3 linked regions of the Homo sapiens genome follow. The protein of the gene in region 2 purifies or fractionates together with the protein of the main gene of each other region. This does not show direct contact. Each region holds a gene or a part of one and is shown on either strand. Other genes may lie near its edges.

Region 1 (10,208 bases), on a different chromosome or scaffold from region 2:
TTCAAGTTATTCTCCTGCCTCAGCCTCCTGAGTAACTGGGATTACAGGCACACACCACCATGCCTGGCTAACGTTTGTATTTTTAGTAGAGACGGGGTTTCACCATGTTGGTCAAGTTGGTCTCGAACTCCTGACCTCATGATCTGCCTGCTTCGGCCTCCCAAAGTGCTGGAATTATAGGCATGAGCCACTGCACCAGGCCTCAAAAAAATGTTATGTATATTTCATCACAATAAAAATGTTTTCTAAAGATGGGCCTTAATATGCGTTGACAAGGATGTGGAGCGACTGAAATTCTCATACACTGCTGATGGGAGTGTAACATGACACAAGCCACTTTGAAAAACATTTTGGCAATTTTTATAAAAGTTAAATATGCACCTACCATATGACCTAGCCATTCCACTCTTAGTTATTTGCCCGAGAGAAATGAAAACATTGTCCATAAAAATACTCGTATGTGAACATTCATAGCAGCATTGTGGTAATTGCCCCAAACTGGAAACAACCCACATGTCTATCATGGGTAAATAATTAATGTTTATCCATACAATGGAGTACTAGTCAGCAATAAAAAGAAGAAGCTAAACTATTGATACACGCAACAACATAGATGAGCCTCAAAATAATTATGCTGAGTGAAAGACACTAGACCAAAATGAGTACATACTGTTTGATTTCTATTTATTTCTATTATTTAAAAATCTAAAAAATGCAAACTCATCAATAGTCAGAGAAAGCAGATCAGCAGTTGCCTGGGAATAGGAGTGGGGATGGGAGGGGCTGGAGTGAGGGATTACAAAGGCACATGAGGAAACTTTTGTTGGTGATAGACATGTTCACTATCATAGTTGTGATGGTTTCTTTGGGTGTATACATGCATCAGAATTGTCAAATTGTGTACTTTAAACACTTACTATTTATTGTATGTCAAGTATTTTTCAGTAAAGCTTGTGTTTTGGTTTGTTTGTTTTGTTTTTTGATCCTCTCACCTCAGCCTCCAGAGTAGCTGGGACTGCTGGTGTGGGCCACCATGCCTGGCTAATTTTGTTTATTTTTATTTGTAGACATGGGGTCTTGCTATGTTGCCCAGGCTGGTTTCAAACTCCTGGGCTCAAGCGATCTGCCCACCTCAGCCTCCCAAAGTTCTGAGATTACTGGCATGAGCCACCGCACCTGGCTGGTAAAGCTGTTTTAAAAATAAGTTTAAGGCTAGATGTAGTGGCATAGGCCTGTAATTCCAACACTACTACCATGAACTGCTCATACACGTCTATCCTCCTTAGTAATCTGGGACAGGATGCTGGGGACGTGTGTCTCAGTTCTCTCTTCAAAGACTCATCTCCCATTCCCACACTTACAGAACTAGAACCATGTACTCTGTGATTTCATTTATTATATGCTAAAGCGGTTTTTACAAAACAACAGAGGAAAGATCATTCAATATATTATAGTAAGAATGTCGGTTAGCTAACATTTGGGGGGAAATATAATTTTTTTCTATTTATTCTATTTATCTTTATCAACCCCAAGTTAATAAAAAATTAAATATATGTTATTAAATAGAATTGAGTATCTAATAGATCTTTGAACTGATAGCAGCTTTCTAAGCTTTGAAGGAACAAGAAGAGATTACAAGAGAAAAGATCAACAGATTTGGCTATATAAAATCCTGAAAGTTTGTACACTGAAAAGTACAACCAAAAAGAAAATAACCAATTGGTATGACAAAGGATTAATGTCTATATTTTATAAAGCATTCATGGAAATCTACCCAAAAAACATGTCCCCAAAGATAAATGGCCAGAGATACTTCACACAAGAGGAAATGGAATGAGTAAACAAGCATGTGGCAAAATATTCAACCTCACTAGTGGCTTTTTTTTTTTTTGAGATGGAGTTTCACTCTGTCACCCAGGTTGGAGTGCAGTGGCACGATCTCAGCTCACTGCAACCTCTGCCTCCAGGGTTCAAGCGATTCTCCTGCCTCAGCCTCCCGAGTAGCTGGGATTACAGGTGCATGCCACCACGCCTTGCTAATTTTTTGTATTTTTAGTAGAGATGGGGTTTCACCATGTTGGCCAGGCTGGTCTCGAACTTTTGACCTCAAGTGATCCGCCTGCCTTGGCCTCCCAAAGTGCTGGGATTACAGTCATGAGCCACTGCACCCGGCCTAGTTGAGATTTTTTAGTGTAAATTAAAATAATTACATTAGCAAAAGTTAAAAATAGGTGATTACCAGGCTGGCACGAGTATAGTAAAATTGCAAGAATCCTCCGAGAAAGGCTTTTTGGCAATACACATATGCTACTACAAAAGGATTCAGACTCTTTGACACAGTGCTCTCTTTCTAAGGGTTACTGCCAACCACTCCCCTGAATTAATCACAGATGCACCACTTCTCCCACATCTGAGTCTCCAGCCCAGATCATGCGCCTGAGCTCAGGACTGGGTCTATAAGATATCTCCAGGCTGATGTTCCCCCGCACCCTCAGCCCTGTGTCTCAGACTCATCTCCTCATCTTCTCCTCAAGCACACTCCTCTGCCTCCTCCTTGTTCCGGTGAATGCATCACTGAGTCACCAAGCCAGAAACCTGGGAGTCATCCTAATTACCTCGTTGTCCCTCACCCCTGCACATTCATCATTTCCCAGTCAGATCCTGCCAATACTCCATCTGCAATGTCTTTTGAGTCTTTGAGCCCCCTCCTCCTCAGCCCCAGAGTCACAAATCTAGGTCTCAGCAGCCTTCAGTTTCTTGCTTGTATTGTTGACAGAGACCTGACCCATGTCCTCCAAGCCACTCACATTTCCTTCAAACCATTCTACGTGGAGGAGTTTGAGTTATCTTTTTAAAGCACAACACTGATTCTGTCCTCCTTAAAATCTTTCAACAGCTCTCCATTGTCTACCCACAGGCTAAAGTCCAAGATCCTAAAGATTTAGCTGCCCTCTGTATTACAACCCGCTTCACCACCATTTTTTTCTCCGATAAGCTTCTCCTAGCTTTCCCTCCCCACCCCCGCAGCCTGCTTCTCATATTATTATTTGTTCCTTGAGAGCAAGAACTAGATCTTAATAATCTCTGCATCCTCAGTTCATAATGCAGAGCTTGACACAGAGTAAGCACTCAATAAGTGTTGGTTGAAGGAATAGATTTATTCTAAGGAAAATATTCAACTGAAGGAAAAAGCTGTTCACTGTAGCAACACGCATAATAGAGAAAAAGTACAGAAAACTAAATGTCCAACAACAGAGAACTTGTATTAATTGTGGGACATCCACTTAATGGAATATGATACAGCTGTTAAAGTAGTAATTATGAGGATTATGCAGCAACTTGGAAAGTGTTTCTAATATAATAAAAACAGAATACAAAATGGTCTGTATGCTAGGACTAAAATTATGTAAAAGTATGCATGCACACAAGCCGATCAGAAAGAGAACAGGAAGAGGAACAAATGAATACAGATGATGTGTTTAGGGTGTTTGGGGAGGTACTGTTTGCGATTTACTTAGCTCTTTCCAAATTTCCTTTATTGTTGTTAGAATGTCATTTGTGCATAAATACAAATTGAGAGAGAGAAATATACTGAAAAAGATGCTTTGATTTCCTCAAGTCCTTTGATAACCTATGGCATAAAAACAAACCACTCACCTGGGAGGCAAGAGACAAGTCCCCTCATCCCCAAACGGGCTGTGTGATCTTGATTAAGTGAGATCTGCAGCTCTAACCAGCCATTTCTCCTATCCTCTCTAGCTGGAAAGCACATGGTTATCCCCCCACTCCCACAGCAACTTCTCCACCATTTCTGTTAATTGTACCACCATCTTCCCAGTGCTCTCAGATTAAAAACCTCAGAACCAACTTCCATTATCTCATCACCTTCACCTTCTCTCTACTCCTCACCTCCAATTAATCGATCCTTTCCAATAATCACTTATAACATGCTTTATTGTGGATTGTATCCCAGTTTTAGACAAGGAGGAGTTCCTGCCCTCTTAGTTAATACTGTCTGCTTGGTTAATACTGTCTGCTTGAGAAGAGCCAACAATGTTTCCCTCTCTTGCTCCTCTGCAGACTGCTGAGGGGTAAAGTGGATGGTACAGATAGAGACTTGTGAAATGGAACCTCATGAGTTAGGAGCTTGATCTCATGGTGGGAAGAATTCAGGCACAGGCTGGATGCTCTCAGGGATAGTACAGTAGGACTTGGCACAATAAGTGGGATGCTGACTCCGTTTATTCATTCAACAAGTATTTATCAAGTGCTGGACACAGTGCCGAGCTCTCTGTTCAGTGGCAAGGGGCCTGCCCAGATGAATTAGGGCAGGCTCCATCCTGGAGGTGCTCAGTTTGGTGGAGGCCAGGTAACTAAATTTGTCCTTGCTACCTAATGTGCTGTGTGCCCTCACCAAGTTTGAACACAAGCCTCTGGGGCAAGAATGAGGGATTTACCCTGACTGAGGGGACCACGAGCCCACAGAACCAGAGGGACTTGAACTGTGCATTTCCAAGGCTGAGGTGTGGGATTAGGTGGTACCCAGGAAGGGGGTTTGGCTGTTTGTGGCAGTTCCAAGCTAAGGAATCGAGTCCACAAGCAGTCTTGAAAGAGCTGACTCTAGCCAGGCGCAGTGGCTCAGGCCTGTAATCCCAGCACTTTGGGAGGTCGAGGCGGGCGGATCGCTTGAGTCCAGGAGTTTGAGACCAGCCTAGGTAACATGGCGAAACCCCGTCTCTACAAAAAAATAAAACTACAAAAAATTAGTTGGGTGCAGTGGCGTGCGCCTGTTGTCCCAGCTACTCGTGGGGGCTGAAGTGAGAGGATCGCTTGAGCCCGGGCTGTCTGTCGAGGCTGCAGTGAGCCATGCACTACAGCCTGGGTGACAGAGTGAGACCCTGTCTCCCAAACAAACAAACAAAAAGAGCTGACTCCCTCGGAACAAACTAGCTTGGTGGGGCTTGAGCTTTGAAGTTTGGGATTGGGGAGAGAGAGCAATGGAGCCAGATAAAGTTCAGACCTGCTCCCTTACGGCAGGAAACAGAGGGCCAAGGGCAGTTTCGAAGCAGGATCAGATCTACATTTTAGTTAGATATAACCAGACGATTTCTAATATCCTCTCTCCTCCCTGAGTCTCTATAAGTGCCAAATGCGTTGTACAGGAAGCAAGGGGGAGGATGTCAGAGTTCAAGCAGAGAAGCAAGAGGGGGTTAAAAACGTTGTTGGCTCTTCCCAACTCAGTATGGGCTGCCTGGCTGGCTCAAGGGAACACAAAAAAGGGACAGACAAAATACGTTTAAGAAATAACATTAAATATTTATTAAAATGTATTCTATTGATTATATACAAGTTCTTTGTTTTGTTTTGTTTTGTTTTGTTTTTGAGACGGAGTCTCGCTCTGTCGCCCAGGCTGGAGTGCAGTGGCGCGATCTCGGCTCACTGCAAGCTCCACCTCCGGGGTTCACGCCATTCTCCTGCCTCAGCTTCCCGAGTAGCTGGGACTACAGGCGCCCGCCACTATGCCCGGCTAATTTTTTTGTATTTTTTTTTAGTATAGACGGGGTTTCACTGTGTTAGCCAGGATGGTCTCGATCTCCTGACCTCATGATCCGCCCGCCTCGGCCTCCCAAAGTGCTGGGATTACAGGCGTAGAATCATCTGTACGTGAGACTGGAAGTAAGCTCACTTTGAACTCTCCTTGAGGCCAGGGATGTTGTGTAGCTCATCTTTGTATTCCCAGCACCTAGCACAGAATAAGGCACACAAGAGGCGCTCAGCAAATATGGGAGGAGGAAGGGCGGAAAAAGGGGAGGGAGGAAATCGCCCTTAGGAGACACCCTCTTTCCGCGGCGGTTCCTCAACTCGGGACTTCTGACCTCCCACCAGCAGATGGCAAGAAAGAGTCCCGGCGCGCCAGCAAAGGGCTGAGCTGGGCGGAGCAGCTGAAAATCCGGCGCGCGCAGTCTCCAGCCCCAATTTCTACGCGCACCGGAAGACGGAGGTCCTCTTTCCTTGCCTAACGCAGCCATGGTAAGCCGTTTAGTTAGCGAGCTCTTAGGACGTATCCGCCTCCATCCTCCCCCGGCCGGGGCTGCCCGAGGTTTCGGGATTCCTACTGGGGATGGCCGGGCAGAGGCGAAGGGATCACGGCCTCCGTGGTAGGCCGGGACGGGCTCCAGGGCGAAGGGCGAACGCTGGCCTAGGGTTGGGGAGGCGCAGATCTGGTGCTGCTGTTGGGAAGGCCTCGGTTTCTGACCCGGCCATACGTCCTGATCCCGGGAGAAGCTGCTTTTCCTCCCGGGCCGGAGCCGCGGCTGGGCCAGGAGCTCAGACTGCGAGCCCGAGGTTGGTGGGCGCTGGGGGTGCCCGGCGGAGAAAGGTTTTCTTTGTCATTGCCTTTTTGGCACGGCCTGACTTTACCATACGTGGCCGGTAAGCATCTGGACACAGCATTAAAAAGGCTTCCTTACTCTTTTTAAAGTAAAATTGGTGTCAGCTTTTGGCTTTAGTGTACGAAGGAGCAGCACATGTGTTTGTGCGGATGTCAGAATCTTGTTCCATACGTGTCAAAAACAGACGGTAATAAATTGTGAAAACTTTAGAAACACAGGTAGACTCCTGGCTCATTTCTGTTGCTGTGCGTTTCACTAGTATGGTGTTCTTGAAAGACCCTAACCTCTAAGCAGATACAGTTTCAAACAGTAACATGGAAACACTTTAGCAAGGTTCTGAAAGATAGTAATCAGTAAACGTTCTGAAACATAGTAACCAAGAATATTCTCTGTTACAATAAGAAGGCTTGTTGCAGCTTATGGATCTCACGGTGTTTGTTAAATAACTGTGTTTGTTTCTGTTTTATCGGAACACTATACTTTAATATTGTCCACATTTTGCTGAAGATGAAACTAAACTAAGAGTTTAGTTTCACACTAGGTTTTATAAGCTGTTCTGAAACCTGATTAACAGCATTGCAATCTAAAACTTTCAGGCTCGTGGTCCCAAGAAGCATCTGAAGCGGGTGGCAGCTCCAAAGCATTGGATGCTGGATAAATTGACCGGTGTGTTTGTAAGTATCTTATATAAATATTTCCGTGGCCACTGTTTTTAAGTGTCTCCCAGGACTCATTTGGGGACCAGGCTAGGGGAGGAATATCTATTCTTGGCTTCCTCTGCCCTTGAAGGAGCTATACTATCTAGCTGTCCTCCACTTCCAATCGATTTAATATTTTTGTGCCTCATTTATTCCACATACCACATAGTACATTTACATGGACTCAGGATTCATGTTCTTAATGATCCTGGTCCTCTGACAGGGAAGATGCTATAAAACTTTAAGGTATGAAATAGTTTTGGATGCTTTTTACACCTCCTGTGTAAAAGTCCAAGTTGGGTGTAATATGGACGGTCTTGGTGTTCAGTTAGTGGATCTGGTGGACTAGGAGGTAGGTTTGAGTGCTTTAGTGAATCCCAACAGTGATTATCATTTTTAACGTTACAGGCTCCTCGTCCATCCACCGGTCCCCACAAGTTGAGAGAGTGTCTCCCCCTCATCATTTTCCTGAGGAACAGACTTAAGTATGCCCTGACAGGAGATGAAGTAAAGAAGATTTGCATGCAGCGGTTCATTAAAATCGATGGCAAGGTCCGAACTGATATAACCTACCCTGCTGGATTCATGGGTAAGAAGTTTTAAATACTCTGGAGACGCATATTGATGGCAGCCCTATGGTATCCAAATACTGTCTTGATCATTTTTCTAACCTTTGTAATCTGTCAAGTCTCAGAAACAAAGCCTGACCTTCCCTCTGTTTTTTACTTAAATAAAAAACATGCAAATAATCATGAAACGCTTTTCAAAACTAAATTTCGATTCACTTTTAAATTTTACATGCAGTCATGGGGTTTTGAAATATTGAAGATCTGGCCGTGATCTTTAATCTTCAGAATCCTTGTTGGATTAGAACTGGGAGGCACATGGGGGTTCTTTTTGTTTCGTAGAGAGCTATGGTTGTTGCTCGGCATGAGGTAGTGGGGATCACTGTATGTAGTAACCGGTTACTGCTTGATTTCAGATGTCATCAGCATTGACAAGACGGGAGAGAATTTCCGTCTGATCTATGACACCAAGGGTCGCTTTGCTGTACATCGTATTACACCTGAGGAGGCCAAGGTGAGTGTGGCAAGCAAGCTGGGTCTTTACTCAGTATAGTTACTTTGTTCTAAGGGCCTGCATTGAGTACGAGTGCTGCTTGCAATGAGGTGGGTATTGATTAGTTAAAATCTCATACCTGGAAATATCTAGCTAACAATTCGATGAGATTCTGTCTTACATGTAACTTTTTGTCATGTTATTAAAAGTCTGGCTGATAGCTGTAGGGCATTGATGGATACCTAAAATTGGCCCCCATTTGAAGTTAACTTCCTCAGCAGATTTTCTTTTTTTGTGGTAGAAATGAATTCCAGTTGAACCGCGACTTCCTGGTGTCTCTTAAGAGTCAAGGAGAATGATTTCTGGGAACTTGTTTATTGGGTACCTGACGTAGGAGCCCTTTGCCATGTCTCCATTTGTGGGAGTAGCTTTACTTTGGGGAGGGGAAGGTGTCGATGGAGGAAACAGACAGTCCTTGAGGCACTAGTTTGAGGTTTAAAAAAAGATTACAGTCTTTGATTATTTAATCCAGTTTGTTTTGATGGTTTTACACAAAAGTTTAGGGCTGTTTGGATTATTGGCTGTAAATGAAGGTTAATTTAATTGACTGATGTGGCTCCTAATTTCCTTTTGCACAGCCTTGTTAACAGCAGACTGGAGGGCACGTCCAGTGGGATCTGTGATTATTTGATTTACTTCAAGGATATCAGGGAGTAGAGATCCAAAATTGAAATGCTATGTGAAGTATTTGTTGATTGGATGAACTGGTAATGTAATTGCTGTTTGTGAGACAAAACTCAGTCGTGATGTACAGGGAGCCATTAAGATAAAGTTGAGTTGAAGGGAAGAATTCCCAGGGCCCCATAAGGCTTAAAGAGCCTGGGAAACTGGAGTGGCATTTACATTGGAGGAGTGGAGGGCAATGGTGGATGTTAGGAGGACGAGCCTAGAGAAGGGCTTTATGCAACATACACTTGAGGGTGGAAAGAACGATCAGCGTCACAATTAATCTGCAGCAGTTAGGGAACCCATGGTTCCTGTATAGGGTTAAAAAGTACATGTGAGATGGATTGAATGTGGCTAACCCTTGTATTTTTCTAGTACAAGTTGTGCAAAGTGAGAAAGATCTTTGTGGGCACAAAAGGAATCCCTCATCTGGTGACTCATGATGCCCGCACCATCCGCTACCCCGATCCCCTCATCAAGGTGAATGATACCATTCAGATTGATTTGGAGACTGGCAAGATTACTGATTTCATCAAGTTCGACACTGGTAAGCATCCTCTGTGCTACCTGGGCACCCTCTTTAAGGCCTAGATCATTATGAATTGCACAGGGTCTGGGTATCTTTATTAAAAACCATCTGCTCCAATCGCCCAGGTGTGTTTATAGCCAGAGGCACAAATGCTCAGAATACTCATTTCTTTTCTTTAAATTGTTTGTTTTTTATAGAGGAGGGTCTTACTGTGTTGCCCAGACTGTTCTCGAACTGATTATAGGTGTGAGCCACCAAGCCTGGCCACAAAATTTCTTACGAGAGTCCCGGGAGTCCTAGCATAGGCAGCAGTTCCATATGAGGAAATTCAAATGGGGGGAAAGGAGGAATAAAATTTGTTTGGACCCATCTCTGAGCTGCTTGTCATTTGTTATATTGAGTTGAAGCAGATTATTTCTTCCTGCCTAGGTAACCTGTGTATGGTGACTGGAGGTGCTAACCTAGGAAGAATTGGTGTGATCACCAACAGAGAGAGGCACCCTGGATCTTTTGACGTGGTTCACGTGAAAGATGCCAATGGCAACAGCTTTGCCACTCGACTTTCCAACATTTTTGTTATTGGCAAGGTAAGTCTGGGTTTTCCTTCTCTCTAGTCTGAGGAAATATGTAAATGCAGGTGGCTGCTGGGATTGTAGCATCCAGGCTCCTGGCTGGCTCTGCTGAACCTAGTGCAAAGCCTCTTCTGGATAGGACTCACGCAGAGCTGGGCTGAGTCATAATGATTAGCCTTAGGTACTACTAAACTTTGACTCACTTGAATAAATGGTAGGTGCCTGCTATGCA
Region 2 (9,499 bases):
CTTCTTGTATGACCACCTGGGCAAGGAGGATGAGAACCTGGGTAGCGTGAAGCAGTATGTGGAGAGCATAGACGTTTCCTCCTACACGGTGGGTGCTGGGGCTCCTCCCACCCCAGGCAAGATATAGTCACACCCCTCAAGGCTAGATCCAGAAAGAACCCCCACCTGCAGGCCAGGACTAAAACAGGGTCCCCACAGGCCACACTCAGTTCAGCTCCCCATCTTGGACGTCTATAGGACCCCTTACATACCCAGCGGCCCCCTATCCCATACCAGTTGCCTGTTAGCCCAACTTCACTATGCTTTCTCTCTGGTGCTCCTGGCCCAGAGCACAAGCCCAGTGCAGGGAGGGAGGGTAACTGCTGACTTCACGTCTCTGCCCCTCCCCAGGAGGAGTTCAACGTGTCCTGCCTGACAGACAGCAATGCCGATACCTACTGGGAGAGCGATGGGTCCCAGTGCCAACACTGGGTACGGCTTACTATGAAGAAGGGCACCATTGTCAAGTAAGTAGGCTCTGGGCAGGACAGGGTGGGTGGGCTATGTCCCTGTGGGTTCACAAAGACTCATATTCACACTCTGACCCTTCAGGAAGCTGCTACTCACAGTGGATACCACAGATGACAACTTTATGCCAAAGCGGGTGGTGGTCTATGGGGGTGAAGGGGACAACCTGAAGAAGCTGAGTGACGTGAGCATTGACGAGTGAGCACGCTGGCCTGGGGAGGGAAGTAGGGCATGTTCCAAGCCTAGCCCAGCTTGAAAGCCTAAGTTTGAGTGAGACTCCAGCAGTCTCTGAAGGCCTGAGGCAGGAGGTATCTGAAGTGCTTCACACTCATCTCCTCAGGACCCTCATCGGGGATGTCTGTGTCCTGGAGGACATGACCGTCCACCTCCCGATCATCGAGATCCGCATCGTGGAGTGCCGAGGTGAGGTTTAAGGCTATAAGGAGGGAAAGAGAGCCCGGCGTGGAGATGGGGGCAAACAGAGAGTGTGTGTGGAGAGAAGAGGATGGGCTTGGAGTTGGGGTGAAGGCGATGCTGAACTAACTCCAGGATTTGGAGCTTTGGGGCCTGAGCCAGCTGGGACATGCCAGGTATAGGCCTGCCTTAAAGCCATACAGGTGGTTGGGCTCACCTGGAAGAGGAACTGAGTTGGGACCCTCAGGCATCCCAGCATTCTAGTGGAAGACAGAGGAATCAGCAGGAATAGATCAATCAGAATCAGGTGATAGAAGGTGATCCCGAAGGTCCCGAGTTTCTAGGGGCTAACGGTGACACAAGGCTGAGCGTTCAAGGAGCCGGTCCCAGGTCTGAGGGCCAAGGAGGCAGCAGGTGCTGTAAATGACCTTACTCTGACCCCTTCCCCCAGATGATGGGATTGATGTTCGTCTCCGAGGGGTCAAGATCAAGTCATCTAGACAGCGGGAACTAGGGTTGAATGCAGACCTGTTCCAGCCAACTAGTCTGGTGCGATATCCACGCCTAGAAGGCACCGACCCTGAAGTACTGTACCGCAGAGCTGTCCTCCTGCAGAGGTGGCTGTGGTCCTGGACCTATGGGCCCTTCCCTTCCCCCAACATTGAGCCTTGTGTGTCTGCATGGAGGAGGTTCCCAAGGTCTCATAGTATAAGCTGTTCAAGGGTCAGAGAAGCCCCCAGGTCCTGCCTTTTCCTGTCCCTTTATGTTGGGGAGTTGGGGGTGTTACAGGTATGCTAAACTCTTTAGCTGCAGTCTATCTACCCATGCCAGATTCATCAAGATCCTCGATAGTGTCCTGCACCACCTGGTACCTGCCTGGGACCACACACTGGGCACCTTCAGTGAGATTAAGGTGAGCCGACCCAGCCAGTGCTGGTCTTGGCATTTCCCCTTCCTGCTCACGTAGTTGTTCATTCCTTAGCAGAGTTCCTAAAATCTACTCTAGGGCAAGACCTTTGCTGGGTCTGGGAACATAGGAAGAAAGCCAGAACAAATGGTCCAAATTTAGTGTTTGGGAGGCTGTTCCCCAGCCTCCTTGGTATTCCAGAGTGTGTGGAATACCCAAGGGCTATTGACAGCACAGGCAGGGCAGTTTGCGTGAAAGGTACATACAGGGAGTTACCAGCAGCTCAAGATGTCTTGAGAAAAGTGTGCCAGTAGGTGTGAGTATGACAGAGGGATGAGGGTGGAAGGATGTGGGCAGGAGACAGGTCCTGGTTGCAGAGGGCCCTGTGGGCCAGGCTGTGAAGCAAGGACTTTGTCCCAGGGTAGTGGAGCTGTTGGAAAGGTAAGGAAGGTAATGACAGTATTAGATTTTTTTGTTTTAGAAAGCTCTCCCTGGTGGCTGAACTAAGGAGGGGACTGGAGACAAAGACAGGGATGGACTAGACTTGAACTGAAACGGTGGAATTGGATACAGGCAGAGGGGAAAGTTCCAGGGCCTGGACGGAGGCTGACTGCCCACTCATTCCTGCTCTGGCCACCTCTCCTCACTAGCAAGTGAAGCAGTTCCTACTGCTGTCCCGCCAGCGGCCAGGCCTGGTGGCTCAGTGCCTGCGTGACTCTGAGAGCAGCAAGCCCAGCTTCATGCCACGCCTATACATCAACCGCCGTCTTGCCATGGAACACCGTGCCTGCCCCTCTCGAGACCCTGCCTGCAAGAATGCAGTCTTCACCCAGGTCTGCACCACCTAGGGTCCGACTGAGATAGGATCAGTCAAGGGCCAAGGGGGCTAGGCCAAGAGGGACCTGAACAAGTTCTTGGGGCAAGTATAGGGCCAGGTCTTGCTTTCCTATGACTCCTTTCCTCCTTGCCTCCAGGTATATGAAGGCCTCAAGCCCTCTGACAAATATGAAAAGCCCCTGGACTACAGGTATGGCATGAGAGTGAGGGACTTACTCGGGACACCTGTTTGTGCACACAAACACACACAAACACACACACACACACACACACACACACACAACTGCTCGAGGCACCCCTCGCCATGACTGCTTTTCCCAGGTGGTCTCTGAGCTGATGAATTGTGCTGCACCTGGCCCCACATAATGACAAATCTGCCCACGTTTTTTGCAGGTGGCCCATGCGCTATGACCAGTGGTGGGAGTGTAAATTTATTGCAGAAGGCATCATTGACCAAGGTGAGGCCCTGAGGGAGGATCTCAAGGGTCCTGCTTGCTGCCCTATCAAAGTGGTAGAGGCTTTTCACCAGCTAATGATGATGGGGGACCTATTCATTACCCCATTATGGGAGCTGGGCTCTTGAGTGCCCAGCTGAGGGCATCTGTCATTTCAGGGGGTGGTTTCCGGGACAGCCTGGCAGATATGTCAGAAGAGCTGTGCCCTAGCTCAGCGGATACCCCCGTGCCCCTGCCCTTCTTTGTACGCACAGCCAACCAGGTAATCTCCGTTTCCATCTCTGCAAACCTCCCAGGTGCCAGATTGAGCTAGAAAGGGGGCAGAGGAGGGGGCCAGATTGAGCTAGAAAGGGGGCAGGCACAGTGGCTCACGCCTGTAATCCCAGCACTTTGGGAAGCCGAGGCGGGCAGATCACGAGGTCAGGAGTTCAAGACCAGCCTGGCCAATGAAGTGAAGCCCCATCTCTATAAAAATAAAAAATTAGCCGGGCGTGGTGGCACGCGCCTGTAGTCCCAGCTACATGGGAGGCTGAAGCAGGCGACTCGCTTGAACCCAGGAGACGGAGGTTGCAGTGAGCCGAGATCACGCCACTGCACTCCAGCCTGGGTGACACAGTGAGACTCTGTCTCAAAAAAAAAAAAAAATAGAAATAGGGCAGAGGAGGGACTGAGTTGCTCAGGGCAACCTCTGGGCAGACAGGGAGAGGAGGAGCCACTGTGCATTTGAAGGGATCATTTAGTGGAAAATGTTCCCAGTGGAAAATGTTCAGGGAAGTCTTTGGGCCAGGAAAATAGGGTGTATCTCATGCCACACTCACAGCTCTGTCTCTGGGGCAGGGCAATGGCACTGGTGAGGCTCGGGACATGTATGTACCCAACCCCTCCTGCCGAGACTTTGCCAAGTATGAATGGATCGGACAGCTGATGGGGGCTGCCCTTCGGGGTAAGGAGTTCCTGGTGAGTAGCCTTATCCACACCCCCGTCCGATCAGCCCTGGCCCTTGGAAGGAAAGGCCAGCCAAACCTGGGCAGCTCAGGGTGAGAAGACAGTGGGGAGTGTTTGTCACACAGGTCCTGGCCCTGCCTGGTTTTGTGTGGAAGCAGCTTTCTGGTGAGGAGGTGAGCTGGAGCAAGGACTTCCCAGCTGTGGACTCTGTGCTGGTGAGTAGGACCTGGAACCAGTGTTTCCTCTGCCCAGCCCCTAAAGGTTGGTCCTCCCTAAGGCTGTTCTGTACCTTGTTCTTTCACCACACACAAGATCCCTCTCCAATCCATCCACTCCCATGGCTTCAACTACTGTCTGTAGACTCGTGACCCCTAAAATCCTGACCTCTAGCCCCAGCCTCTCCTAAGCCTGGGGCCATATATGTATCTGTACCCTCGACGTTTGCCCCAAGATGGCATCTCAGGCTCAGTGTGTTCTTTATCTTCTCCGAAGACTACTCCCCTCTAGGGCTCCTGCCTCAGAAGGGCACCATGTCCCACTCCTCCCCATCCCAAAGCCCACAGGGCCATCCTTCACCCCTTCTTCTCCCTCGCCACCATATTCTTAAGTCTTCCTCTGTAATCTGTTTGCTTTTCCTGTCTCACTACTGTCTCCCTGCCTGGTTGAGGACACCTTTCCTCCTTAGCTAATCACTTACTAAAAAGCTGGTGTCCCTGTCTCCGTTCTTACCCGTTTGGTCTCCATGCAGCCACAGTAATTCATTTCACTCTCCTTATTTAAACTCATTGATGGCTCGGCCCTGGGCTTAGGATAGAATGCAGAATCTGTAAAGGCCTTACGTGAACCCTGTGTCTCCAGCCACTTGGTTCACATTCAGGCTCCAGCCACACAGTTTCCTTAGGCCTTTTGCTCTTTCCAGCTTTCTCCAAGATGTTCTCTCTCCTAACTTCCCTTATGTCCCAGCCATCATTTGGGTCTCAGCTGAGACACCATTTTCCACAGGATGCCTCCTCTGGCCTCCAAGGCTGGTTAGGTGTTGTCTTGATGCTTTTACAGCTCTTGTACTGACACCCTCATTCCCTGCTGCCTCCATGGGGACTGCCTTGCCTGGCTGTCTCTGCTTCCCTGTGAGCATCTTGTGGAAAGACAGGGACTATCTCCACAGTGAAAAGGTTACCTCCCTGCCTCTCTCCAACCCCTAGGTGAAGCTCCTGGAAGTGATGGAAGGAATGGACAAGGAGACGTTTGAGTTCAAGTTTGGGAAGGAACTAACATTCACCACTGTACTGAGTGACCAACAGGTGGTGGAGCTGATCCCTGGGGGTGCAGGCATCGTCGTGGGATATGGGGACCGTTCTCGTTTCATCCAACTGGTCCAGAAGGCACGGCTAGAGGAGAGCAAGGAGCAGGTAGTACCCAGAGGCTAGTAGAGCAGAGAGCTTTGGCCCCTCCTGAGCCCCAGCTCCTGGGACCCAGAACACAGCCTGTAAGCCACCAGTACTCCAAGAACTCTGGCCCCCACCATTCCTCAGTGCCACCTTTCTGCTGCTAAAAGGCCACAGTGATGCCCCCCAGTGTGAGGCGGGAGGTGTGCCCTCTTCCCCAGCCAAGCCTTTTTACCCACTCCCCAGGTGGCAGCTATGCAGGCAGGTCTGCTGAAGGTGGTACCACAGGCTGTGCTGGACTTGCTGACCTGGCAAGAGTTGGAGAAGAAAGTGTGTGGGGATCCAGAGGTCACTGTGGATGCTCTGCGCAAGCTCAGTGAGTTCCCCAAGGCAGGGCAGGGCAGGGCAGCACAGCACAGCACAGGGGTTGGGGCTCAAGGACTGGGCAAGATGAGACCCAAGAATGAATGCTGGCCTTGTCTCCACCAGCCCGGTTTGAGGACTTCGAGCCATCTGACTCGCGGGTGCAGTATTTCTGGGAGGCACTGAACAACTTCACCAACGGTCAGTGGAGGAGGGCAGGGTGACACCTGGGTTTGGACTCTGCTGCTGAGTTGCAGAGGCAGGGTAGAAGTTGTAGACCCTCCCTCACCATCCATGCAGGCACTGATTTCCTTCTCCCTCCAGAGGACCGGAGCCGCTTCCTGCGCTTTGTCACGGGCCGCAGTCGCCTGCCAGCACGGATCTACATCTACCCAGACAAGCTGGGGTGAGTGCTGGAGGGAGGCCTGAAGGTGCCATGGCCGCCTTCTGTCCTCCCTCCCCACACACGTACATGTGCCCCAACACATCTTCCTGACCTATGGTCCCTCAATGCCCCCAGCTACGAGACCACAGACGCGCTGCCCGAGTCTTCCACTTGCTCCAGCACCCTCTTCCTGCCACACTATGCCAGGTGGGTTTTTTCCTAGGCTCGATTTGGGGCCCAGGGGACCCCATCACCCCTGGTAGCGATGTAGGGACCTGACCAAGTCCCCATTCCCACAGTGCCAAGGTATGCGAGGAGAAGCTCCGCTATGCGGCCTACAACTGCGTGGCCATCGACACTGACATGAGCCCTTGGGAGGAGTGAGGCGTGCCGCCGGCTGTGGGACCAGCAAGACTGCACGTGTCCCTCTTGGCCTTGCCCAGGGCGAAGACACCTTCCCTGCCCTGGTTTGGCTGACGTGCTCAGCAAAACCCCATGTGCCCTGCTCCTGTGTGCAGTTGGGGTAGGGGCAGCTGGCATGGTCAGGTAACACTAGTGGCCCAGCCCCGCAGACCCACAAGCCCTACCCGTGCTGGGGCTTGCTTCCCGAGGTATTTCACCTCTTAAGAGGGAATCTTCCACAAGCCCAGCACAAGCTGCCAGGCCTGAGCTACTTGAAGGGGGCCATCTAGGTCCCCAACCCATGGACTTTGCCTCCATTTTCAGCTCCGCCTTTTTTCTCCTATTTTCTCTCTGGCTTTCTTCAGCCATGACTCACAACTAAAAACATAAAACACTGGAGGTTAGTGGAGGCCCCTCCCCAAGCAGGGAGCCTGGGATGGGCAGGGAGTGATAGCCAAACTCCTTGGTCACCTGCTCCAAGAAGGAAGCAGTAGCTGAGCACCTGCCCTCACATTCTGCTCTTTTCCCCTCTCCCTCCATACCAGAGATGTGGTGAGCTCTGTTCTTCTACCAACCCAGTCTCAACACACAAAGTGCCACCACCTTCCCTGACTCAGAACCCACATCCACTCAATGTGAACTCTACTACCACGACCTCCCCATATTCCTCACTTCTCCATCACCTCCAGCCTGACTCCCTGTCTGCCCTTTCACCCCCAAGATTTTGCACAGGTTAAGGCCAGTTATGGCCTTTTTGAAATCTGTAATAGCTCCCCTTTCCCCAACTCTAAAGCCTAGACCTTAAACCTGTTCCTAGAGCTATGCACACCCCTGCCCCAGTTTACCGTTCCTCCCTCAGGGCCTCCGTGACACTCCATGAAAAGAAGTTCTTGCATACCGGAAAGTTGAATAAATGGATGAATTCATTCCTTCAGAATGTGTTTATTGGGCCCTGGGCTTAGGCACAGGGTCACAAGGAGAAATTGACTTTAGTGTCCTACTCGGAGCCAAGAAGATGGATGTGAAATGCAAGTAGAGGTTTCTCAGTGACAGACTTTGCACAGTTACATATCTGGGGCTGAGCAGAGACGTAAGGGCCCCACTGCGCAGAAAAGGGAAAACAAGCAAACAGGCTGGCCTGGCATTTTCTGGCATGGATATGGTGATTTGGAGGATGGGAGTCCACTTCTGGAGCCAAGTGGGCAGAAGAATTTGACATCATAGAAGACAGAGACGGGAGGGCTGACAAACCAGCCAGGTCAGGGTTGTTGACAGAAGTGGAGGAAGTAGTGTCTTTATTACCCTGCCCCCAACCCGTTGCAGTCCTTTTTGGGTGTTTGTTTGTTTGTTTGTTTGTTTGGGTCTCTGTTGCTTAGGCTGGCGTGTAGTGGTGCAGTCACGGCTTACTCCAGCCTGGGCCTCCTGGGCTCCAGTGATCTTCCCACCTCAGCCTCCTGAGTAGCTGGGACCACAAGTATGCCACCGCTTCTGGGTAATTTTTTGCAGAGATAGGGGTCTCCCTATGTTGAACAGGTTGTTCTCGAACTCCTGGCCTCAGGCATTCCTCCCACCTCAGCCTCCCAGAGTGCTAGGATTACAGGCCTGAGTAGTCTTCAAGAACAAGTACCTGGGGCCGGCGACTCATACCTGGAATTCCAGCACTTTGGGAGGCTGAGGTGGGCGGACCACTTGAGCCCAGGAGTTGGAGACCAGCCTGGCCAACGTGGTGAAACCCTCTCTCTATTAAAAATACGAAAATGAGCAGGGCTTGGGTGCGTGTCTGTGGTGCCAGTTGGGAGACTGAGGTGGGAGGATCGCTTGAGCCTAGGAGGTGGAGGTTGTAGTGAGCCAAGATCATGCCACTGCACTTCAGCCTGGGCAACAGAGTGAGACCCTCTATCCAAAAAAAAAAAAAGGAGTATCAGGGAGAACCCTGTGTACGAACAGTCCCCCTACACCCCCACAGTGGCCAGTCACGCTCTCAAGCACAGCCCCAGGGTCCCAGTCGTCTCAGAGTCCAGGTACAATGTGAGACCTTGTGGTGGCTGATTGTCCAGATAAGTGGCTTGGCGGAGTCTCGCCCTGGCAACTCTTCCCCTTCTTGTCCTCTAGGGCACTCCCTGACACTGCCCTAGTTGGGAAACTTACTGTGCAAGAGGTTGATCTCTGCCTGCACTGTGTGCACCCTGAGACCTATCCCAAAACACGGAACTTGACAGCTCAGTCTCTCGGCTGCCACCGCCTCCCCTGTACCCCTGCACCTTGGGTGGTGAACCCCCTTCCCTTCCAGGAAGCAGAAGGCACAGAAACCCCCAAGGCCACCACTTCCACCCAGCTCTGCTCTTCCCAAGTCAGGGTGCACCTCTCCCTTCTCTCCCCTCAGGAAAGGGCCCAGGCCACGTGCTCCTACAGGAAGTAGCCAGTTTCTGTGCCTGGTATGGTCACATGAACTCTTTAGTCCCTTTTTTACTCACACTGTATATTTTGTAGCCTGCATTTCATTTAACCCTTCATTCATTCAATAAACTAATATGCATCAAGCCCCTAGGTCAGGCACTGCACTAGGTGAATGGATAAAATCGTGGCTAAAGCAGTGATAATTTTTACCCTTATGGGATTTAAACTCTAATGGGAAAGACATACAAACAAAGAGTTGCATAAACAACACTTAAGAACACTTTTGTAAAAGCTACAAAGAAGTGAAAATTGTTAGGGGACAGAACAGGATCGTTCTAACCAATGCAGCTCAATGAAATGCGAAATTCCTAAGGCATGTAACTCAACACAGAGGCCAGCTGAGAAGACTGTTGAGTACTGTGTTGCTGGAGTGTAAAAGAAAGAGAGAAATGAGACTCCAGTCTTATAAGGCCAGTTTTAGGATTTTATAATGAGCAGCCCT
Region 3 (10,222 bases), on a different chromosome or scaffold from region 2:
AAAGTGTTTTGAAATTCAGTAATCTTTTCTTGACCTGAATAATAGTGAATATTTAAAAAATTTAGAGCATACCTTAGCATATTCCATTTAACTGATATATCTAAATTCCTATATGATTTCCCATTATTTCTAATTTCTTATAAAACAGTTTCACACATACATGCTTGAAAATCTGCCAAAGCTTATTCTCCCAGCATGTCTTTAAAGATAGGTGGACAGTTATTGAATCTAAATAAATGCATTTTTTCTATGCAAATTACAATTTATTCTGTACACTTTCCTGTTTGTAAACTTTTCATATGCGAACTCAGAATCCTTTCCCCAAGTGTCACTTAAGAATTTTGATGTGGACCATATAAATTTGGTTTTCCTAGTATATCCTTTTGAATACTAGTCCTGCGATATTAATAAATTTAGGAAATACTGGGTTATTCAAAGTTAAACCGATGTTGTTATAATACTTCTCAGAATATTAAAGATACCAACATGCATTTGAACTCCCTAAGAAGTGGATACACATAATTTTATAGCATTTTCCAAAATTTATTTGACACTAGGACCATCTTTGTCCCCAAAGATCATGTTATAAGACTGTTATTCTGTGATACACTTTTATTTTGCATAAAACTTAGCTAGTAAGAGACCATTCACTCTTGACCTCATAACAATGAATGGTGAAAAGTTAAGTTCCCATTACTTGATGTCAGTTCCTTTTAAAATAGTTAGTATTACCTCATATCAGCAGCATCTACAGGGAATAAATTATCTCATTTCATTTGAACCTGTGTATGAGTTCACTACATTGAAAAAGACTTCGACCACTGCTCTAAGTCCCACCAGACAATCAAATATACAAAGCTTATTGAAGTCAGGTCAGTCATCTCATCTTTTGAGACAAAGGGCAGCACTTATTCTTTGGGCATAATGTGGCCCATTAATTGCATAGCACCAGCTGCATCAAGGACAACTAATGAATCCAACACATTTTCTTTTTTTGGAAAATACATCCTTCATGGAAATTTGCAATATCGCACATATCATGGCATAAAAGAACATTTTAGAAGTTGTGTTTATCTTTTAAGTTTCTGTGGCTTATCGGACTTATATTTGTGTTCTAGCCTTTTTATAGGAAACCACAAAAGAAATTGACACATACATGAGGGGGAGGGAGGGACTTTATAAACAGAGATTTAGCTAGTGTGATTTTCTGGGAAAAAGATTTTCAGAGCTACTCATGTATATGCTATAAATTATTAAGTCATCAATTATTTTATTTACCTCCTAAGAATGGGATTGGCATATGAAACACATATCTGTAATACTTCTCAGTGTATTTCAATATAAAATTTGGTTTTCCAGGCTAAAGAGAACGTATTATACAGAAAGATTTCTATCTCCAGTAGAACTTCTGATTTGAGCTTTTATCACTTGTCAGAGTCAGAGACAATACACATCATAGTTGATAAAGATTCGATAAATGGATCATTGCTTTTTGAAAGTAGAGAGAAGGTGCTTGTTTAGATCTTTGACTATAGTTTTGCAACAAGCAATGCCATGGTCCTTGCTTTTGATTATTGTCTACGGAGTTAGTCTGACCCTAACCAAAGAGAGAAATTATAAAACATACAAGTATCACCAGGCTAATAGAAAGTCATAGAGCAAGTTTGGCCTAAATTGTTTCATTTTATTCCACTTTCTGGCAAGGCATTAATTTGCTTCGTTCTTTCTTTCACTAGACCTTTTCTGAGCGGCTACTGGGAAATTTCTCATTAGCAGTTCCGATCTTTGTTGCCCTCTCCTGCTTTGGCTCCATGAACGGTGGTGTGTTTGCTGTCTCCAGGTGAGTGAGTTCATGTATTTCCAGAAACACATTTCTGTTTTTGAGATTGGATGTGATAAGGATAACTTTAAAAAGAAAAGAAATAGTGCCTCCAAACCTGTTGTTTTTAAAGGGACATGCAAGATTGAAATATTGGTCCAAGTATCAACAGCACGTTTTATTCTGTCCATTAGAGGGCACTGCTTGCCTATTAATAGCTTATTTGGAAGACGGACATGTGGCTTTTTTAAAAATAGTATTTCCACAGTCTAACAATGGCATTTTATTTCTGGTGATATAATTTTCTGTTTCTCTGAAGATGCCAAGAAAAAAGTAAAGTAAGAGACATCAGAAATCACCACCCCTACCATCAGTATTTCCTTTGTTTAGTTTGATGCAATAGTCTTTTTGTTTTAATATACGATTAAAAGCCAATCAGATAAATGTGAATGCTACATATAGGTGTGTGTACCTGTGGATGTGCATGTGTGTGTGTTTGTTGAATTGGATTGACAACACACATATAATACTAGGAATCTAGAACTAGATTTCCCATCAGCTATTTATATGTAGAGAGAGCTATGCTGAGTCAGATATTGCTATTCTTTCTCTTCAAAGAATAATATAATGTTGGCAGATTTTGTAAAATCCAAATTTAGATTTCCTATGATATTTCTCCACCTTATTTGAAAAGTGAACTTAGGCAATCACCTAAGGAATACCTGACCATTTGGTATGAAAAGATGCACGTTTTCTCTGGGATTTTTGGATTTTCCCTTTGAAATGATCAATCATACAGTCAACTCCACCCACATTTCTCTCCCATCAGGTTATTCTATGTTGCGTCTCGAGAGGGTCACCTTCCAGAAATCCTCTCCATGATTCATGTCCGCAAGCACACTCCTCTACCAGCTGTTATTGTTTTGGTAATGCATATTAACAAGTATATCTAGATATAACCTTGAATAATAGGTTAGCAAAAAGGAATTCCAACCAGACATTAGATAGTATTTTACTTTCTCATTCATTGCTAATGTATGTCATGGTGGAGTTTGGGAGGCAGGATATCTTCCATCTCTTCCCTTTACTCCATGTTTCTGATGCCTATTTTTTTTGATGCTTTGGGGCAAAAATCATCATCACCTCACTTTCATCTTTGCAGAAATGTGTAAGGTCTAAGGAAAATGATTGGCTTGGCTCCTCTCATTGACATAGCACCTCACAGAAAAGAATGTAGAGTATTAAGTCCCAATGACTTAAGGAAAGTAGAGCAAAAAGCTACAGTCCAAAAAGTACCCAGATGTATCATCTAGGCACCTTATAATGAAATGCACACAAAATTATTGAAACAATTGATAAAATCCTAGACAGTGCCATGATTCATTTGAGACATTTGAGAGCAAGTGTCTTTTATCCTGCAGGATAAAAATAAAAGCACCACGAGGTAAATTTGAGTTGTAAAATTCTTTCTGCAGAGCAAAGTGTGAAATGTGAGCTACAAAAGACTGTATGAGGTGTAAAAGTCCTCAAATACCCATTGGCAATGTTATATTCATTTTTACTGATGATTTTGTAACATTTCTCTCAACTGGAGTCTGTTGTCAGGAGCACCACAGAATGCACTGAACATTTTTTTTTCATGCATTTAATTTGTTTCAGAACGTTTCCTTGAAATTTCTTTTTAAAGTATGTGTACTCTCTGTGCAGAATCTGGATGTTAACGTCACTTGTGGGAACAGAATGTATTATTCCGTGAAGAGGGCTTTCATTTTAAGCCTCTGCTATCAGTCATGCTGTCCTTGGCATGTGCAGCTGCAGAGACTTGCTAAGCTGATCTCTGCGCTTCATTCTTCTCCGTGGTCTTGAGGGTCACACACGGCAAGCACACCAGGAGAGTAAATGTGGAGGAAAAAAGGTCAATGTTTTGCAATCAAGAGCCAACAGAATCACCTATGAGTGTCTGTGTTTCCTGGGTGTGGATAGCCAAGAGCTCACCGGAGAGCATTTGCAGAGCTTTCTGTAAATCTTCCAATTGGGCCTCTTTTACTGTTCATTATCGGTTATTTACTAATCATCTCAATCTTTGAGTCTTTCAATTTTGAGTCATTGAGTAACCTTTCTTTTACTCTTTGAAGACATACTATCTTCTCTCAAATGCAAAAGGAACTAAAAACACAACACAACATTCATATAGAATTCCACTTGAATAAAGTATAATGGCCATATCACTCTCATACTGTTACTGGTGTGTAAATGGATTATGACAACAGAATATAGAAAAGAGATTAGTCAAATCCAAGTTTTAACTATGATGATAATTTATCGGTATAAATAATTATTTGAAAAAGGTCGTAATGCATAGTGAGGTTTTTGTTGTTAATCATCTGTGTTTTCACTGAATTCACCAAGCTTGCTTCCCTTTCCCCCCTCAGCACCCTTTGACAATGATAATGCTCTTCTCTGGAGACCTCGACAGTCTTTTGAATTTCCTCAGTTTTGCCAGGTGGCTTTTTATTGGGCTGGCAGTTGCTGGGCTGATTTATCTTCGATACAAATGCCCAGATATGCATCGTCCTTTCAAGGTAACCTCAGCAATCTTGATGGGTTTACATAAATCTCTCTCCTAATACCTAGTCCTCCCTTTGTCATAACTTGCTGATGGGGAGGTTGGGCTGGGGGCAGCATCTGTGGAATAAAAATGTTTAACTCTTGCAGGCAGTGCTTTCCTGTTGGATTTATTTTAAGTTGGAAAAAAAACAGTGGATCCAATTTTTTATGTGATGGGCTTGAACTTTGTATGTCAAATTTTTGAAAAATGACTGTATGAATGAATGTTTGGTATGTTGATTTTTCATGAATGTGTTCAATGACCTGATATACTCAAAGTATGGGCTACTTCTGTCTGTCTTTATGCTAGAGTTGTGGACAGCCATGGTGAGGAGGAGTAAGGGAGATACTTTGTTAATGCCAATTCCAAAAAGGAATTTGCCTTTACAAAATAGGCATTTTAAGTACTTAAATGTTGTGACTTGTTACATTGCTCTTTCTCTATATTATACACTCCAAAAAGAATAGAAATGTAAAATATACAGGGAAAGAGAAGATCTACAAATTTACCACTTGATACCCATTTACCATAAGTAAGCATCTCCCTTTTGGAGGACTGGAGAAAAAGCTTGTCATCTTCTTCAGACTTGACTCATGGATTGATTTGACCTCACGATTTATTTGTTTTTAAGAAATGGCATAGATAAGGTTGTCAGTCATGTTGTCAGGATTTGTTTCTAGTAATATTCATTGCCTAATGCTGGTGGCATCTTTATTAGCGGTTGAATAGGAGTTGGCTTGTTTTATTCCTGTCAGTTATTATTGTGGATCTCAACAGAAAAATCAATATGCACTGAAAGACTTTAACATGTAACAAGCAGCCGGTGCTCTTGACTCCACATTAAAGTGGGTTCTAATCATAATTATCAAAGAGCCAGTCTTTTAAAATCAAAACCATAAATCATCATGGCATTTAACTAGTAAAATAATTCCAACAGAACATCTCTAATAAAGTATCCATTTTTGTCCTTAGAGTTTGTTCTAGCCAAAGATTTAAAAACAATTTAAATTAAGTTGAATTACATTTAAGGGAGTACGTTTAATACATTATCTGTGCACCATGAAAGAGATTTTGCTACTAAGGCACGTTGGTGCCTGTTACCTGGTCGCATGACTACAGCATATCACTAAAGTATATGTCATGACTGACACGCTCATCTCAAACCCAGCTTCTGTTGCTTGAACATGTTTGAAGTGACTTTTTTGTGTTCTGTGTTCCAGGTGCCACTGTTCATCCCAGCTTTGTTTTCCTTCACATGCCTCTTCATGGTTGCCCTTTCCCTCTATTCGGACCCATTTAGTACAGGGATTGGCTTCGTCATCACTCTGACTGGAGTCCCTGCGTATTATCTCTTTATTATATGGGACAAGAAACCCAGGTGGTTTAGAATAATGTCGGGTAAGAATTTTAAATACTTTCAGGACATTGTGCAACACCATGTAGAAAACCCATAAAGGTGTGCATACATAATATACTTAACATTTAAAAATGTAAGTGGCACAATTGATTTGAGAACATTATGGCATTTTAATTGGAACTGCTTTTTGGCAGGAAGGACATTTAGGGTACAGCCGTTGAATCCTTTTGGATATTAGTTTGGGCTGCTGTAATCACTTCTTAGGAGAAACAGCTTTGTTTTAGATGAAATTTTATCAGTAGTTCTCTAATCGACCTAATCTCTCTTTGAATCCTTTACTAACCTAATTATTTTCCTTCTAGTTTGAATGCAGTTTAGTGATTTTATATCATAATATGTAACTTGATGAGTGACACGAGATTTGTTGGGGAGTTAGGCAGTGGCCTGCAAATGCCTTAAACATTATGACTGTACGCTACCTTAAAAGGAAGGGTGACTCATGAAGGATTATAATAACAAGAACAATGGAGAGAACAATAGCAGCTTCCACATGTGAGTGCACATGTATGACTTCATTTAATTTTTTTTAAATTTTACTTTAAGTTCTGGAATAAACGTGCAGAACGTGCAGGTTTGTTACATAGGTATACATGTGCTATGGTGGGAATGTAAATTAGTTCAACCATTGTGGAAAAACAGTGTGGCAATTCTTCAAGAACCTAGAACCAGAAATATCATTTGACCCAGTAATCCCATTACTGGGTATATACCCAAAGGTTTATAAATCATTCTACTATAAAGACACATGCACACGTATGTTTATTGCAGCACTATTTACAATAGCAAAAACTTAGAACCAACCCAAATGCCCATCAATGATAGAATGGATAAGGAAAATGTGGCACATAAATATGATAGAATACTATGCAGCCATAAAAAAGAATGAGTTAATATCCTTTGCAGGGACATAGATGAAGCTGGAAGCCATTATTCTCAGCAAACTAACACAGGAACAGAAAAGCAAACAGCACATGTCCTCACTCATGAGTGGGAGTAGAACAATGAGGACACATGGACACAGGGAGAGGAACAAGACTTTATTTAATTCATATAATATCCTACTGAGGTAGGAAAATTATTATCCCCAGTTAATAGGCTTTGAATTATAGCATGAGAGAATTCAGGTCACTTGTTCCAAGTCATACAGATATAAAGTAGAATAGCTGAAAGTCAAACTCAGGCAGTTTTATATTTTAGGAGAATCACCCTGGGGGTTATGAGGATGGATTAAGATAGGTTGGGGCTGAAGACAGAATATTGACTTTGGTGGTTACTGCAGCAATCCTGATGAGAATTGAGGGGGATTCTGAAGACAGGCAGTATCAGCAGGGTCTGAGAGAAAGTGAAACATACTAAAAGGAAAAATCAGCAAGACTTGGTGACCAGTTAAACTGGGGGAGGAGAAAACATAGTAGATGACTAGGTAGGAAGGGTGCTTATGAATAGCCTGTGTTGAAAGCATATCTCTCTGTCAGAGGCTCTCCTGAGTCCTCTCCCCTACATGATCATCTCAAGCAATCCTCAACAAGGTTGATGTGTGAGGTGCTATTATTCCCAAGTCCAGATGAGAACACCAGAGCTCAGGAAAATGGAGAATTTATTTTTGAGTGTATGTATTTTAAACCATAGAACTAGGAATTGAACCCACATCTGCTGGACTTCTAAGTTCATGCTCTTTCTAGACTGGATCCCTTGTGGAAGTGGGGGGGGCGGAGAGAGAGAGAGAGAGAGGGAAAGAGAGAGACAGAGAGAGAGAGGGAGAGAGAGAGACAGAGAGAGAGAGAGAGATAGGTAGGTAACAAATATAGCCAGAAGGGCAGATCTATTCTCGCTGGTGAATGTGGTGAGTTTAGAACATAGCTTTCATACTTTTTCTTTGTTTTAATTTACTTACTTTACCATAATTAATTTTTTAAATTCCAGTTAAAAGTTTGGGGAGATTTCTGGTTAAATTATTAATAAATAATGCCAGTGTTACTAAAAAAACAAACAACCAAAAACCTTGATATGCATATTGAATCTCTAGTGTGCTGTGCAGACTCATTGAGAAGTCAGTCCTTTAAAGCAGAGTTTTATTAATACCTTTTATTAGCATTCAATTGGAATTTTGCATCTTTAGATCTTATACTAATATTTATATCTGGATTTTGTTTCCCCAAAGAAATGTTACTATACAAATGAGGTGCTTTATGGCTGACACAGGCACACTGATTGCCTTAACTGAGTATTTAATCTCTATTTCTTCTCAGATCACACTAGCTTTCTGTGGAATATTTTTAAGTTTTCTGTGTTCTAGACACTAAATATAGAGCCTGTTCTGAGGGAAAAGGGATCTTATTAAATACCATTTACCATTAGGGTTGCTTTATTCATTGCTAACATTTAGGATAGATTAGCACTCATCGCTGTGAAATCTGTCTGTCTCCCATACTAACCAAGACAGTTAAAACCCCTGAGCAGCACAGAAAATTAAGAGAATTGAGGAAGAAAGAGCTGGTGGTCCTAGAGTTAGACTAGAAGAAAGGGAGCATGATGAAAGAGCAAAGCCATTGTTCGATCCCACTTTAGCAGGCATTTTGTTCCTCCTGTTTGGAGTCAGCCAACTCTAATAGTTCTTTCCTCTTGCTAACAAGCACGTGTGTACTTTGTATTATTTCTTTGTCAGTTCATCTCAACAAGCGGTTTTCATGCTTGATCCTTCATTGATGTCTTTTGGTGTTCATGTAATTTTAAAGTTTGTTGCTATTTTTCTATCTCTAATGATGTTTTGAACATTTCCAAGGCCTCCAAATTTAGTGTTAGCCATTTGTGAAACTAGCAGCAATGGAGTAGTCCCATAATGGTTATTTGGTTCTCAAAAATGCCATTAAGTCTTACCAGGGAGCATGGCAATTCTGCTTTTAAACTGCGATCATTGTAACTCTTTATCTTTATAGCTGCCTTGAAAGTGAGTAGCAAAAAGCAACAGTCCTCCGTAATTTTGTTTGATTTTTCTCTGAGGCAGCATTCTTGTAGTAAAATAAAGAAAATTCATAATATTTATTGCTGCAATAGGAAGTATTTTCTTAGCCTTTGGCCAAAACAAAACACTCACACACAGACGCACAAACAACAAAATCCTGAAGCAGCGCCCTGTCCCTTCTCCCAACTACTCTATGATCATTTTGTTAGAGAGAAACTCAATGTGAACTTAGAGACCAAGAGCCTTTGCTTGGAGCAGTTTGTTCAATGATTTAATATCATGTTCTTTCATTAGGTAAAATTCCAAAACCTTTATATTATCATTTATTTTTACCCTGATAATGCATGAGTAGATCAGCCCTGTGAAAATGATAGTCTATCAAAATGCATTTTACCTAGGTTGTTTCCATGAAAAATGAGAGGTAACCAAATAGCACTCGGAAAATGGTGAAAGGCTGCTGAGAACTGACAGCCAGGGAATGTTCAGAATCCAAGGAGCTGAGATTTTCAGAGATTTGATAAATCTCTCCAGCCACAGGATGCCAGTATTGAACCACTTTTTGTTTGATAGCATTTCTAGGGAGAAAAGAAAACATGCTCTTAAGGGAATGGTGAGATACACGGAAAGCTTTTTTCTGCCATCTGTGACAGAGTGGTTTATTCTTCTGGTGGGTTAGTTATATTATTTATTTACTTATAGAAACACAAGCTTCTCACGCGAGGAAAAAGGGGCGGATACCCCAATGACATATGCAAATACACAAAGATAGCAAGACCTGGCAAACCTGGGCCAGGACTCACAGCAGCTGTTTTACTTGGCTGTCTCTATTTAGCAGCCAAACCTTGTCACGGGGTTGAGTGAGGTGACTGGAAGTGGGTCCCTCCTGCTCAGGGAGAGAGATAGAGGACAGCCTTATTTAAACAAAATCTTTGATTATAAAAAATCAGACTGGGAAACACCAGCAGAATGACTGTAATGCATCTTTGTGGACAGTGAGTTTGCAACTCCAGAGTCCTAAAAGCATATGCTGCATACAGTGGGTCAAGATAACTTCATTTATGTTAAATCACTGACAGCTGAATAATGCATTTAACAGACTGTTCACAAAGACTGCAGTGCAATATGTAAGTTAATTAAGCTTGCCTACATTTCTTAGGGGTCCAAACTATCTTCATTGTAAGAATAAAATGAGATCATGCTTGTGAAAATATTTGTAGCCTTAAAAAAATACTATTATTCTTATGAAGACTTCCAGAAAAAAAATGGCCTTGTGCCACATCACAAATGTGGCAATTTTTGCTGTAGTTCCCATATTGGTACCAGGTATGGTTGGGTAAATCAAATTTTGCAGGGTCAGTTGTTGTTTCAAATTATTTCAAGAATAACTACTGAACATGAAAGGTAAAGCTAAAAATA

Evidence for each region.
Region 1: the proteins of HECTD3 (region 2) and RPS4X purify together in Homo sapiens (affinity purification with mass spectrometry; 3 studies listed by BioGRID and IntAct, with this or other methods). This does not show direct contact.
Region 3: the proteins of HECTD3 (region 2) and SLC7A11 purify together in Homo sapiens (affinity purification with western blotting; 2 studies listed by BioGRID and IntAct, with this or other methods). This does not show direct contact.

The regions. Positions count from the first base shown.
Region 1 is NC_000023.11:72,273,015-72,283,222, reverse strand, and holds the start of RPS4X (small ribosomal subunit protein eS4, X isoform), read left to right. Parts: upstream 1-5,974; 5' UTR 5,975-6,027; coding exon 6,028-6,030; intron 6,031-6,988; coding exon 6,989-7,066; intron 7,067-7,498; coding exon 7,499-7,679; intron 7,680-8,072; coding exon 8,073-8,170; intron 8,171-9,250; coding exon 9,251-9,422; intron 9,423-9,833; coding exon 9,834-9,991; intron 9,992-10,208.
Region 2 is NC_000001.11:45,000,575-45,010,073, reverse strand, and holds the end of HECTD3 (E3 ubiquitin-protein ligase HECTD3), read left to right. Parts: coding exon 1-88; intron 89-390; coding exon 391-506; intron 507-591; coding exon 592-705; intron 706-847; coding exon 848-930; intron 931-1,372; coding exon 1,373-1,538; intron 1,539-1,752; coding exon 1,753-1,834; intron 1,835-2,478; coding exon 2,479-2,661; intron 2,662-2,802; coding exon 2,803-2,855; intron 2,856-3,058; coding exon 3,059-3,123; intron 3,124-3,278; coding exon 3,279-3,382; intron 3,383-3,957; coding exon 3,958-4,077; intron 4,078-4,190; coding exon 4,191-4,280; intron 4,281-5,267; coding exon 5,268-5,474; intron 5,475-5,696; coding exon 5,697-5,826; intron 5,827-5,939; coding exon 5,940-6,014; intron 6,015-6,137; coding exon 6,138-6,219; intron 6,220-6,333; coding exon 6,334-6,405; intron 6,406-6,497; coding exon 6,498-6,582; 3' UTR 6,583-7,526; downstream 7,527-9,499. UniProt on the Homo sapiens protein: E3 ubiquitin ligases accepts ubiquitin from an E2 ubiquitin-conjugating enzyme in the form of a thioester and then directly transfers the ubiquitin to targeted substrates.
Region 3 is NC_000004.12:138,174,820-138,185,041, reverse strand, and holds part of SLC7A11 (cystine/glutamate transporter), read left to right. Parts: intron 1-1,736; coding exon 1,737-1,840; intron 1,841-2,648; coding exon 2,649-2,745; intron 2,746-4,251; coding exon 4,252-4,401; intron 4,402-5,647; coding exon 5,648-5,825; intron 5,826-6,864; exon of another isoform or gene 6,865-9,381; intron 9,382-10,222. UniProt on the Homo sapiens protein: Heterodimer with SLC3A2, that functions as an antiporter by mediating the exchange of extracellular anionic L-cystine and intracellular L-glutamate across the cellular plasma membrane.